Homo sapiens: one gene and its partners. The protein of the gene in region 2 purifies or fractionates together with the protein of the main gene of each other region. This does not show direct contact. Each region holds a gene or a part of one and is shown on either strand. Other genes may lie near its edges.

Region 1 (3,654 bases), on a different chromosome or scaffold from region 2:
ACAAATAGCCGGGACCACAGGTGTGTGCCACCATGCCCAGCTAATTTTTTTTTTTATTATTTGTAGAGATGAGGTCTCACTATGTTGCCTAGGCTGGTCTTGAACTCCTGGGCTCAAGTGATCCTCCTGCCTTGGCCTCCCAAAGTGTTGGGATTACAGGCATGAACCACCACACCAGGCCATATCTTATTTCCATAAACCCAGCCATTCACCAAAGATATTTCAGAAAGACGTACTTTATCGAGTTCGTAGAACTCAATGCGTTCTTCTTGGCTGCAGCTTCTTCCAATAGGGGACACGTTTAACATCCCATTTCGGAATTCAATGAAAGTACCCCTGGGAATGAAAGGGTGACAGAGTTTCTCCAAAAACACGTTATTCATTTGGGCAACATAGATAAACAGCCTAAAATCTTGGGAAATTCTAAAAAGCAGAGGCTAGTGTGGTCAATGTTTCTCAGCTCTGTGCTATGTAATATGGTAGCCATGAACTACTGTGACTATTAAGACTTGAAATGTGGCTAATATGAATTGAGATTAGATTTGAAAGATTTAGTATGAAAAAGGAATGTAATTGCATCAATCATGTTGTATATTGACTTTGTGTTAAAATGCTCATATTTTGAGCCTGGACAACATGGCGAAACTCTGTCTCTACAAAAAATACAAAAAATAGCCTGGCATGGTTATGCATGCCTATAATCCCAGCTACTCAGGAGGTTGAGGCAGGAAGATTCCATGAGCCTGGGAGATAGGGGTTATAGTGAGCTGAGATCACACCACTGCACTCCAGTCTGGGTGACAGAGTGAGACCCTGTCTCAAAAAAAAAAAAAAAAAAAGTCATATTTTAGAAATATCAGGCTAAATAAAATATATTATTAAAATTCATTTCACCTCTTCCTTTTCATTCTTTCAAAATGTGGCTACAGAAAATTTAAAATTATACATAGCTCACTTTCTATTTCTGTTGCACAGTGCTGCTACTGGGCAGATAATTTTGTGGTTAATAAAGAGCTATGAAAATGATTTCCAGCACTGGCAACAGCAGTCATTTCCTAGAAGAGTTTGAAAATACATGTACCAGACATCTATTTTGCTACGGAGCTTCTGAACAGACTGATAGTACCAAGCAAAGCTACACAGAAAAAGGCTCTGAGAATTGTCCAACGAGCCTCAGTAATAACTGAGGAAATTCAATTTACCCAGTAGCAGACAGCTCCTAAATGTTTGATTTGATCACAGAAAATGAGAAGCTAACATTAGTTTAGTCACTTCAAATGACGATGTTTAAAGATGTTCTTTTGGCTGGGCGCGGTACCTCACACCTATTAACCCCAGCACTTTGGGAGGCCAAGGTGGGTGAATGGCTTGAGCTCAGGAGTTTGAGAGCAGCCTAGGCAATATGGCAAAACCCCGTTTCTACAAAAAATACAAAAATTAGCCGGGCATGGTGGCACATGCCTGTATTCCCAGCTACTTGGGAGACTGAGACAGGAGGATTGCTTGGGCCCGGGCAGTGGAAGCTGCAGTGAACCAAGATCGTACCACTGCACTACAGCCTGGGTAACAGAGGGAGACCCCGTCTCAAAAAACAAACGAACAAACAAAAAATAAAAAACAAAAAACAAAGAGTTTTTTTCCACGGTTTCCAGTTTGAGTCTGAAAACAGTTTCTTTGGCTCACACCTGTAATCCCAGCACTTTGGGATGCTGCGGCGGGCGGATTCCTTGAGGTCAGGAGTCAAGACCAGCCTGGCCAACAAGATGAAACCCTGTCCCTACTAAAAATACAAAAATTAGCGGGACATGGTAGCGCATGCCTGTAGTCCCAGCTACTTGAGAGGCTGAGGCAGGAGGATCGCTTGAACCCGGGAGGCGGAGGTTGCAGTGAGCTGAGAGCATGCCATTGCACTCCAGTCTGGGAGACAGACTCTGTCTCAAAAAAAACAAAACAAGCAAACAAACAAAAACCCCACAACCAAAAAAAGAAAACCACCCAGTTTCTTAAAAGTTCAGATAACTTGTAAGCTAGATATCATTCTGACCAATGAAATTTAAGCATTTTCTGACAAACTATGCAGTGAAAAGTGTCTTCCAGTTCTAAACGCTGATGCCTGGGAACCCTATGAAACATTTTCCCTCATCTTTTTCTACTATTTTAATCTCACAGACCTGATGTCCTGGCACTGGCCATTGGAAATACCGAGAGACCACATGCCACGTGCAGGGCTGATGACCTGATTCCATGTCAGTGTGGCCTCTTAGGAGGCTGTGTGGCTCTGGGCACCTCTCCAAGCCTCCTCTTATTCACCTACAGAAAGGCTAATGGCACTTGCTCTGGTTACCTCCAAAGGGCCTTGTTAAAAATCAAACATGCCAGTTATGTAAAGGTACTTTGTAAACTGGGAAGCAATGAATACTCATTAAAGTAAAAACAGCAAAATCTCAATCGTCTGGATCCTCTCTCCTATTTTGCTCAACTTGCAGAGAAAGAGGCAAATGATGTAACAAAATATGCGAGCCTAAAAATCTCTCTCAATAATCCCATGTCCAGGCCGTCCCGGAGTTGGCAGAGGCCCAGCCTGTCCTCTACCACGTGTGTATGAGCACTGAGGCACTAGGGGACGGGTGACCGTGCCCCGGGTGACCCTAGGGCTAAAGGTCCTAATGATCAGAAAAAGAGCTCAATTAATGCCCCCCCACTCAAGGACATATTCTTCTTCTCATTTCCAAGGCACAGAGAGAAGTTGATGCAGTTTAGAAAGCCTTCCCCAAAACAAGGCTGAAGGTGGTTTACTAAGCAATCAGTTCCGCCCTAAAGACCTGGGCTCTCTGAAGTCTTACTGCATCTGCCTGGCCGTTGTGGGGCATGTAGTTAGTGTTGTCAGGCAAATGTGGACAAATGTGGATCAAGGTGGGTCTCAGTTCTGCCTCCTGGATTCACCAGGTCTCTTCTACTGTTCTGGAATTATGGCTCTCCACATCCCTCTCCCTCGCTAAATGATACGCTCTTTGAGGACAGGATTATGCCTTTTTTTTTTTTAAATCCTCCCTTAGTGCTCAGCCCAAAGTAAAAATGGAACTGACCTGGGATATTTGTATATTTTATCTTTTCGCCATGGAAAATTTCTAACACACACAAAAGTAAACAGAATAGGATAAGTCCTCATGTGCTCATTACCCAGCTGCAACAATAACCAAGTCCATGTCCAGCCTGTCTCATGCAGGCCTCCCCCTCGGCTAAGGGACATTCCTGCACTCTGGCTGGAGATGCTGAGCAGGAGGCGCTCAGGTTATGAATCCTAATAGTGTGAAGCAGCCTCTGAAGTACACCCAGCCCTGAAATTGAATTGCCACTTAATTCCAACCCTGATGATTAAGGTGTTACATAGTAAGTGTTGAAAACTGGGGGTAAAAATGAGAAGGATTTCAAAGAAATCACTTGCAACCTCACCATCAAGAAATAGCCACTGTTAACATTTGGGTCTATTTCCTGCCAGTCTTTAAATTTACTGTCGGCATTTATGTTCATCATTATTATTATTACTATTATTTTAAAAATGGAACTGAGATAATTGTACCCATGGCAGAAGGTAGGTCCCCAAACCAAACATTTATGAAAGCCAGGGGCAGTGGCTAATGCCTGTAATCCCAA
Region 2 (3,654 bases):
TAATTCAATATTGGGATAAATTAAAGACTTCAATCTTAATTATGTGTTGGACAAAGAAAAATAGAGATGTAGTCAAAATTTCTAATGAGTCCTTAAACTTACCTAAGGGTTAATTGTTTTTCAGTCTTTCTCCAAATTTCTCATCCACTTTGGAATGCATTTAATAAGCAATCAGCTAAAACTTTGCTGTGTGATCTTCACAAAGATTTCTGTTTTTATAAGGATACATATCTCAAAGATATTGTGTATGCACTGTGAACCATTATTTCACTTATTCTAAGAGATATATTTCATCATCTTTTAATATATCTGAAATAATAATGGATCTTAAATGATAGTAGATCATATTTTAAATGGTAGCATTATTTCTTTGTGTTTCTTTCTTAGTGGTACATCCTGTAGTTGAGGGCTTCTTACACCTGATGAAATACCATAGGTTCTGCATGTCAGGTATTGTTCCAGTGCTTTATTTATATTTAATATTTCAATACATTTGAAGGTATTAAATCATTTAATCCTCATAACAACCCTAGAGTACTATTTTAATTTTCTTTTCACAAGTGAGGAAACTGAGATACAGAATAGTACTATAACCTGTTAAGGATTATAGAGCTAATAATAGCATAGCTGGTGTTTGAATCTAGACTGGCTCTAGCATTGAGTTTCAATCTCTGCACTTTATTGTCTGGTTCTGTGTTTCTTTATGGACCAAGGTTATGTCATGCTTATTGATTCAAGCATGCAGCAATGGCCCCGGTATAATTTCTTGAACTTGATATGGCAAACACATTTTTACAGAGTAAACTTAAGAAGCATTCTACCTCAAAACGCTTAGGAAGTGAAACAGTGCATTGGGAGATACCATAGAAAAGTAATAACACCAGTAGTTCTCCAAGCTTCTGTGTTTGCAGCAAAGTTGTACATTGAAGTGTTTGGCAGAATGCACGCCAATCCAAGTTATGTTCAATAACTTGGATTATATCAGTATGTGCTGGTGTTTCTAAAACAACCTATTTATTGTGTACAATTCTTTCAGCTCTTCTTCGATAGTCTGCCACTGTATTTATATACCTGTTCCTGCCCTGACCACACTCTCTCATTCATTACTGAAACAAATTTTCCAAATAATTCTTATTTTATCTTGCTGCTAGCCTACGCCTCTTAATTGCACTTAATTGACTTGAAGCATATTTAACATCTACATGCCTTGGTTTACTCATAAGTAGCATATGGATAATACTAAGGGGTAATATTATAAGTGACCTTGGAGTTGGGAATATTAAATGAGTAAACGCATTGTGCCATTCATCTAGCAAGCATTAAAACTAGCCATCATTCTTATCACCACTGTTATTGTTAATAACACCATTCCAAAACCATTCTGTCATCTTTACATTTTGTTACCTGGAAATTTGTTTGTCCTTTCCAAAGGCAAAATATATACAAGTTTTTCTTCACTTTGTGCTGTCAATTTGGCATCAGAGATGTGCTGCTTAACCAGTGATGTTATACTCTCTGGATCACACCTTTCATTCAGATGCAAACTAACATTTAAAAAGAATAAAAGTTATTTTTATCCAACTGTGTCTATAAAACAATTTCCTAATTATGTAGTATGTGCTTGTCACTTTATTAATATTTATGAGACAAAAAAATGTGTAGTTTACTGGACAAAGTAAGATGTAAAACTACTAATAAAGTCCAAACCATTAAATCTATGCAACATGGCAGAAGAATTAGTATAAGGGATGATTAGAGTGGGAAGAGGTAACTCAAGGACTCTTATTTGGAGAAATGAGATATTAAGCCAGATCTTGCCTGGGGTGAGGTAAAGGGAAATGTTTAATTTGTCAGCATCTACTCAAAAACCCAACCTCCCAACCTTGAGCTTTCCCTTTGTAGTAATGTATGAGTTCTGCCGAAACTCAGACTTGAGCATGAGAAAACAAAAAATGGAGGTGATGTGATACAGTCATTAAGAATGTGGCCCCATGTCATGCTAATGCAGATTCTGCTAAAGCTAATTTTATCATTTTGGGGCCCAAAATTTATTCAAGTGAAATCTGGCCTGTCTTTATTAAGAATATATAAAATTACTCATGAAATTATTTGATTTTTGAAACTCCACTGTTAATCACATACATTGAAAGGTGCTGAGGTGACAGAGTGGTGAGAAGATCACAATTGACTGATGATACAAACCTAAAAAATCAGTTTGAAAAAAAGGCTATTCTGTACTTACAAGGTATAGTACTTACAAGTGCTATCAAGAATACCAAATAGGAAGAATGCAGTACCTTCTCTAAAGAAGCTTCCAACATAAAAATAATATAAAGCAGCATATGACAGAAGATGTGAGGGAGAAGGAAGTTGAGTTAACTCAGTTGAGCACTTTGCAGCTTGTCAAGTATTCATTCACTCAATATTTCTTAGCCTTAACTGCAAAGTAGGTATTATTACTGCTATTACATAAATGAAGTTACTGAGGATCAAAGAAGTTAATTAAGTTGCCTAAGGCAACAGTTCAAAATAGTGCTTTCAGCGTTCCAGAAAAGAGGATACTCATTAAGGAGAAAATACTTTCAGAAATGGTTAAGACTTGGACATGGTTAAATGGGTTGAAGAAGAACATGTTTGACAGATATCCTCTCTCAAGCAGAAACAAGACAACTGAACTATGAAACATAGCTAGAGAATAGTGAGTATTCAATAGAGGGTATTGATTCTACTAGATTGTAACAAGTAGTAATGATAGATTGGTAGATTTGTAACAAGTAGTAATGATAGATTGGTAGATTTGATCAGATTAGCCACTTTGAGTAAAAAATGAGGGGATCCATTTATCCATCAGGATGAAGTGATTTGAATCATTTTTTAAAAAATATCTACATTGCAATGCAAAATATAGGAAGCCATTCATATCACACCTGTAATTTTGAAACAAAGACTATCATTTACAAGTCGTGGAGATTGGCAGATTGTTAAAACTATCTGAAGTGGTATTTTCACTTGTCAAAGGGGAATAACAATAGTATCTTCTTAAAGTTATTTAGAGGATTGAATACAATAATATGAATATTCTATATGTAAATATCTTAGTAAGTACCTAAAACATAGCCAATACTTAAAAAGTAGTAGACATTACTCAGTAATGATAATAATTATTATCAGTAAGAGAAAAAAACCACAAAAGGATGGTGGAAAGAAATGAAGTCAGGGAGAATACAGGGTATTGAAATTGTCAAGATGAACAAAAATAAAACATCTAAAATATGAGAAGAGAAAGGGTCGGAATATCAACAAATTACTCTTAGCAAGCAACACGTTGTGAAAATATTTTTCAAAAATTTTATTTAAGCCTAGATTAATCATCCTTGCATGCTCAATGTCTATAATCTCATATATCCTGCATTCTAGCTAAAAAAGCAATTATGCCTTAGTTCTACCATAGCTCCCTTGAAATGAACTTAGTGGTTATAGGGCCTACTTTTACACATTGATGCTGATACCACCTGCCTCCAGCATTTTCAGCATCTGTCAACACGTCTCCAACATTCAGGGCTGTACCTTAAATGGTAGCCTATGCCCCATTTCTTCTTAAGGAACAGAGAAGAGCCTGCACACTTCAGCTTCCCATTGGATATGAACACCTTC
Region 3 (3,654 bases), on a different chromosome or scaffold from region 2:
GCCAACGTGGTGAAACCCTGCCTCTACTAAAAAAGTACAAAAATTAGCTGGGTGTAGTGGTGCATGCCTGTAATTCCAGCTACTTGGGAGGCTGAGGCAGGAGAATCGCTTGAACACGGGAGGTGGGAGTTGCAGTGAGCTGAGATCATGCCACTGCACTCCAGCCTCTATCTATTTTTTTGGAGACTCTATCTCCAAAAAGAAAAAGAAAGAAAGGTTCTCAGTGGCATTGCTGGAGAGCAGGCTGGCAGGGCTATGCAAGGGGTAGGGAGGGACAGAGAGGAAAGTTGGGGCAGCCTGGGGCTGGGGAAAGGGGTAATCTAGAAAGTGGGGTCTCAGTTCTGCAGATGAACAGATTTGACACTGACTCGAGAGGCTGATGAAATAAGAGTTGTTGGACCCGATGTGGGTGGGAAGGTGGAAATGATGTTCCCAGGTGTTGGCCTGGCTCAGTGGGTGGCTGCCTGGTGCTGGTCACCTAGGAAGGGGGACCAGCAGCATTGTAAAGATGCAGGTGTGTCTACAACAATGGCACACAGTAGGTGCCTGAAAGGGTATCAGTTAAATCAGAACACATCCCCCAGTCTATTTTACTGATGAGAAAATAAAGGCTCAGATAAATTGAGTGACTGAGGCCCTACAGGCCTAAGATTGCATAGCTAGTGGTACCTTGTCCAGTTCGGAGAACTCGATCCTCTCCTCCAGGGTGCAGCTCCGGCCGATGGGCGAGATGTTCAGCATGCCATTCCGGAACTCGATGAAGGTTCCACTGGTGGTGAGGGAGGGCGGGGAGCCAGAGAGAACCAGAACGGCCCTGAATTCAAATCTAGCCCCACCTGGGACCCCAGCCTCCTAGGACTTCAAAGGGGACAAGAATCCACACTCCCCGCAAAAAATCAGGGGCCCAAGTATCTCCAGGTTCCCTCTGAGGGACCCACACTTCTCCTCCCTCAGGCCCCAGGTTCTGGAGACCAGGCTGGTGGGACCTCACCGCTTCTTGGGCAGCCTGAGCAGGGCCATGTAGCTGAGGCAGAAGTTGATCAAGTCCTGCAGCAGCTCCTCCCCCAGGTGGTTCTGGATGGTCTGGCCAAGGAACACAGGGCTCTGAGCGTGGCCTGGGCTGCCTGACCCTGAGACAGGCACAGTGTCTCTCCCCCAGCCCAGGACAGAAGCCCCCTTGGACTGCTCCACTATGGAAAAGTGGGGTGCCCCTGGCTAAGCCCTGGGGGACACTGACCTGCTTGGAGAGCAGTCGTCCGTGCTTATACTGCACCGTCCCGTTCTCGGCAAACACATAATCAAACTTCTCAATGACTTCAGGGTCACATAGAGGACAGGAGGAAGAAAGAGTGTGAGACCACGTCTGTGACCCCACGGGCAAGTAAAGAGAGAGGAAGCCTACACCCTTGGTTTCACATTCAAAGGCCATTTGTTCAATCTGAGGCTACAACCTGCTTCTCCAGCCTTTCTCCCTCTGCAGCTTGGTTTTCTTCCAAAGAAGCCAGTCACACCTGTGGGCCTCTGCACACAGGCATCCATGCAGGTCCTTCTGTCAGAACCGCCCTTCCCTGGCTTCCCTGCCACTCATCCTCCAAGATTCAGCTTCCTCCTCTGGAAGCCATGCAGTACTCTCTGGCAGAGGGCATCATTTCCACTCTGTGCTCCCCTGCCCCTCTGCAGAGGGGCTCCCTTCTGTTCTATAGCTGCCATCGCACTGGGTTCTCAAGGCTGGCTGCATGGGAGAGTTGGAGGTTTCAGCTCTGACTGCCAGGCGAAGCAGTTGGAGTGGGTGGGAGGTGGGAGGCACAGGGAGCACAGCCCAGAGGCTGTTGCGGGGTCTGGGTGGCACGTGGTTACCTGGACTATGATGGCGTGGTGGAGATGGAGACAGAGGGGACAGGGAGATATTTTGGGGTTTGCTGATGGAATAAACAAGAGGTGGGGAAAAGGAAAAATTCGAGGAAGTTTCTGGCTTGAGGAACTGGAGGCACCCACTTTGACTGGGCTGAGACCAGGGGCTCTGAGGTCCAGTCGATTTCCTGGATAACTTCAGAGTCATCCTCTGTTAAATGGGATGATCACGCCTACTCTAAAGTGTGATTGTGGGGATCAAATGCAATGACATTAACACATGATCATTTTTGACAAATGGTAGCCATCATTGGTTCTGCCCTTTTATTTATTTATTTATTTATTTATTTATTTATTTATTTATTTTTGGATGTGTAGCCTCACTCTGTCACCCAGGCTGGAGTGCAGTGGCCTGATCTTGGCTCACTGCAACCTCCGCCTCCCAGGTTCAAGCGATTCTCCTGCCTCAGCCTCCCGAGTAGCTGGGATTACAGGCACGTGCCAACACACCCAGCTAATTTTTTGTATTTTTAGTAGAGACGGGGTTTCACCATGTTGGCCAGGCTGGTCTTGAACTCCTCATCTCAAGTGATCCATCCGCCTCGGCCTCCCAAAGTGCTGGGATTACAGGCGTAAGCCACTGTGCCGGCTGGTTCAGCCCATTTTAAAGATGAGGAAATCAAGACTCAGCAGGGAGAAATGAGAATGTAAACTGCATAAGGGCAGGTTCTGCTTGCTTTGCCCCAGCCATTTCTCAAGGGCCTGGCACAATCCCTGGCAATAGGAAGTGCTCAAGTGTTTGTCAAATCAGTAAGGGAACTATCTGGCTGCTCTCTCTCTATTTCTTCTGCCCCACAGAAGCAGGACTGGATCTTTGAAGACGCCCAGGAATCTCTCAAACTCCCCACTCCCTCTACCCCCAGCCTCACTCCTACCTTCATCCCCGTCACCCAGCTGCTCAGCGATCTTACAGTAGTCAGAGCCGCCCACCACACCGATCTGCACTCTACTTCGTAGCTTCTGCAGGAAGGCGGCCACCTCAGGGTCAATTTTCTATGGGGGGAGAGGGGAAGCATAGCATTCTGGCTTTCAACATGTCTGGGACCTCCACTTAGCCCTCACTTAGTGCTGAGAACCCAGGAAGCCCACATTCTACCTGGATCTGAAGCAGTACAAAGCTTAGACACCAAAAATTAGACAGGTTGGACACTGTGGCTCAGGTCTGCAATCCCAACACTTTGCGAGGCCAAGGCAGAAAGATCACTTGACCCAGGAGTTTGAGACTAGAGCCTAGGCAGCAAAGGAAGACATTGTCTCTATGAAAAAAAAAATTTTTTTGGAGACGAATTTTTGTTCTGTCATCCAGGCTGGAGTGCAGTGGTGTGATTCTGGCTCACTGAAACCTCTGCCCAGGCTGGAGTGCGATGGCGTGATCTCAGCTCACTGCAACCTCTGCCTCCCGGGTTCAAGCGATTCTTCTGCCTCAGCCTCCCGAGTAGCTGGGATTACAGGCGCCTGCCACCATGCCCAGCTAAGTTTTAAATTTTTAGTAGAGACAGGGTTTCGCCATGTTGGCCAGGCTGGTCTTGAACTCCTGACTTCAGGTGATCCATCCGCCTGGGCCTCCCAAAGTGCTGGGATTATAGGCGTGAGCCACCGTGCCTGGCCGAAAGTTTTTAAAAATTAGCCAGGCATGGGCTGGCACGGTGGTTCACACCAGTAATCCCAGCACTTTGGGAGGCCCAGGAGGGTGGATCACTTGATGTCAGGAGTTCGAGACCAGCCTGGCCAACATGGTGAAAC

Evidence for each region.
Region 1: the proteins of ABCA9 (region 2) and PMM2 purify together in Homo sapiens (affinity purification with mass spectrometry; one large-scale study listed by BioGRID and IntAct). This does not show direct contact.
Region 3: the proteins of ABCA9 (region 2) and PMM1 purify together in Homo sapiens (affinity purification with mass spectrometry; one large-scale study listed by BioGRID and IntAct). This does not show direct contact.

Annotation. Positions count from the first base shown.
Region 1 is NC_000016.10:8,807,761-8,811,414, reverse strand, and holds part of PMM2 (phosphomannomutase 2), read right to left. Parts: intron 337-3,654; coding exon 237-336; intron 1-236. UniProt on the Homo sapiens protein: Involved in the synthesis of the GDP-mannose and dolichol-phosphate-mannose required for a number of critical mannosyl transfer reactions.
Region 2 is NC_000017.11:69,022,810-69,026,463, forward strand, and holds part of ABCA9 (ATP-binding cassette sub-family A member 9), read right to left. Parts: coding exon 3,568-3,654; intron 1,545-3,567; coding exon 1,405-1,544; intron 1-1,404. UniProt on the Homo sapiens protein: Transporter that may play a role in monocyte differentiation and lipid transport and homeostasis.
Region 3 is NC_000022.11:41,583,290-41,586,943, forward strand, and holds part of PMM1 (phosphomannomutase 1), read right to left. Parts: intron 2,905-3,654; coding exon 2,787-2,904; intron 1,315-2,786; coding exon 1,238-1,314; intron 1,084-1,237; coding exon 992-1,083; intron 770-991; coding exon 670-769; intron 1-669. UniProt on the Homo sapiens protein: Involved in the synthesis of the GDP-mannose and dolichol-phosphate-mannose required for a number of critical mannosyl transfer reactions. In addition, may be responsible for the degradation of glucose-1,6-bisphosphate in ischemic brain.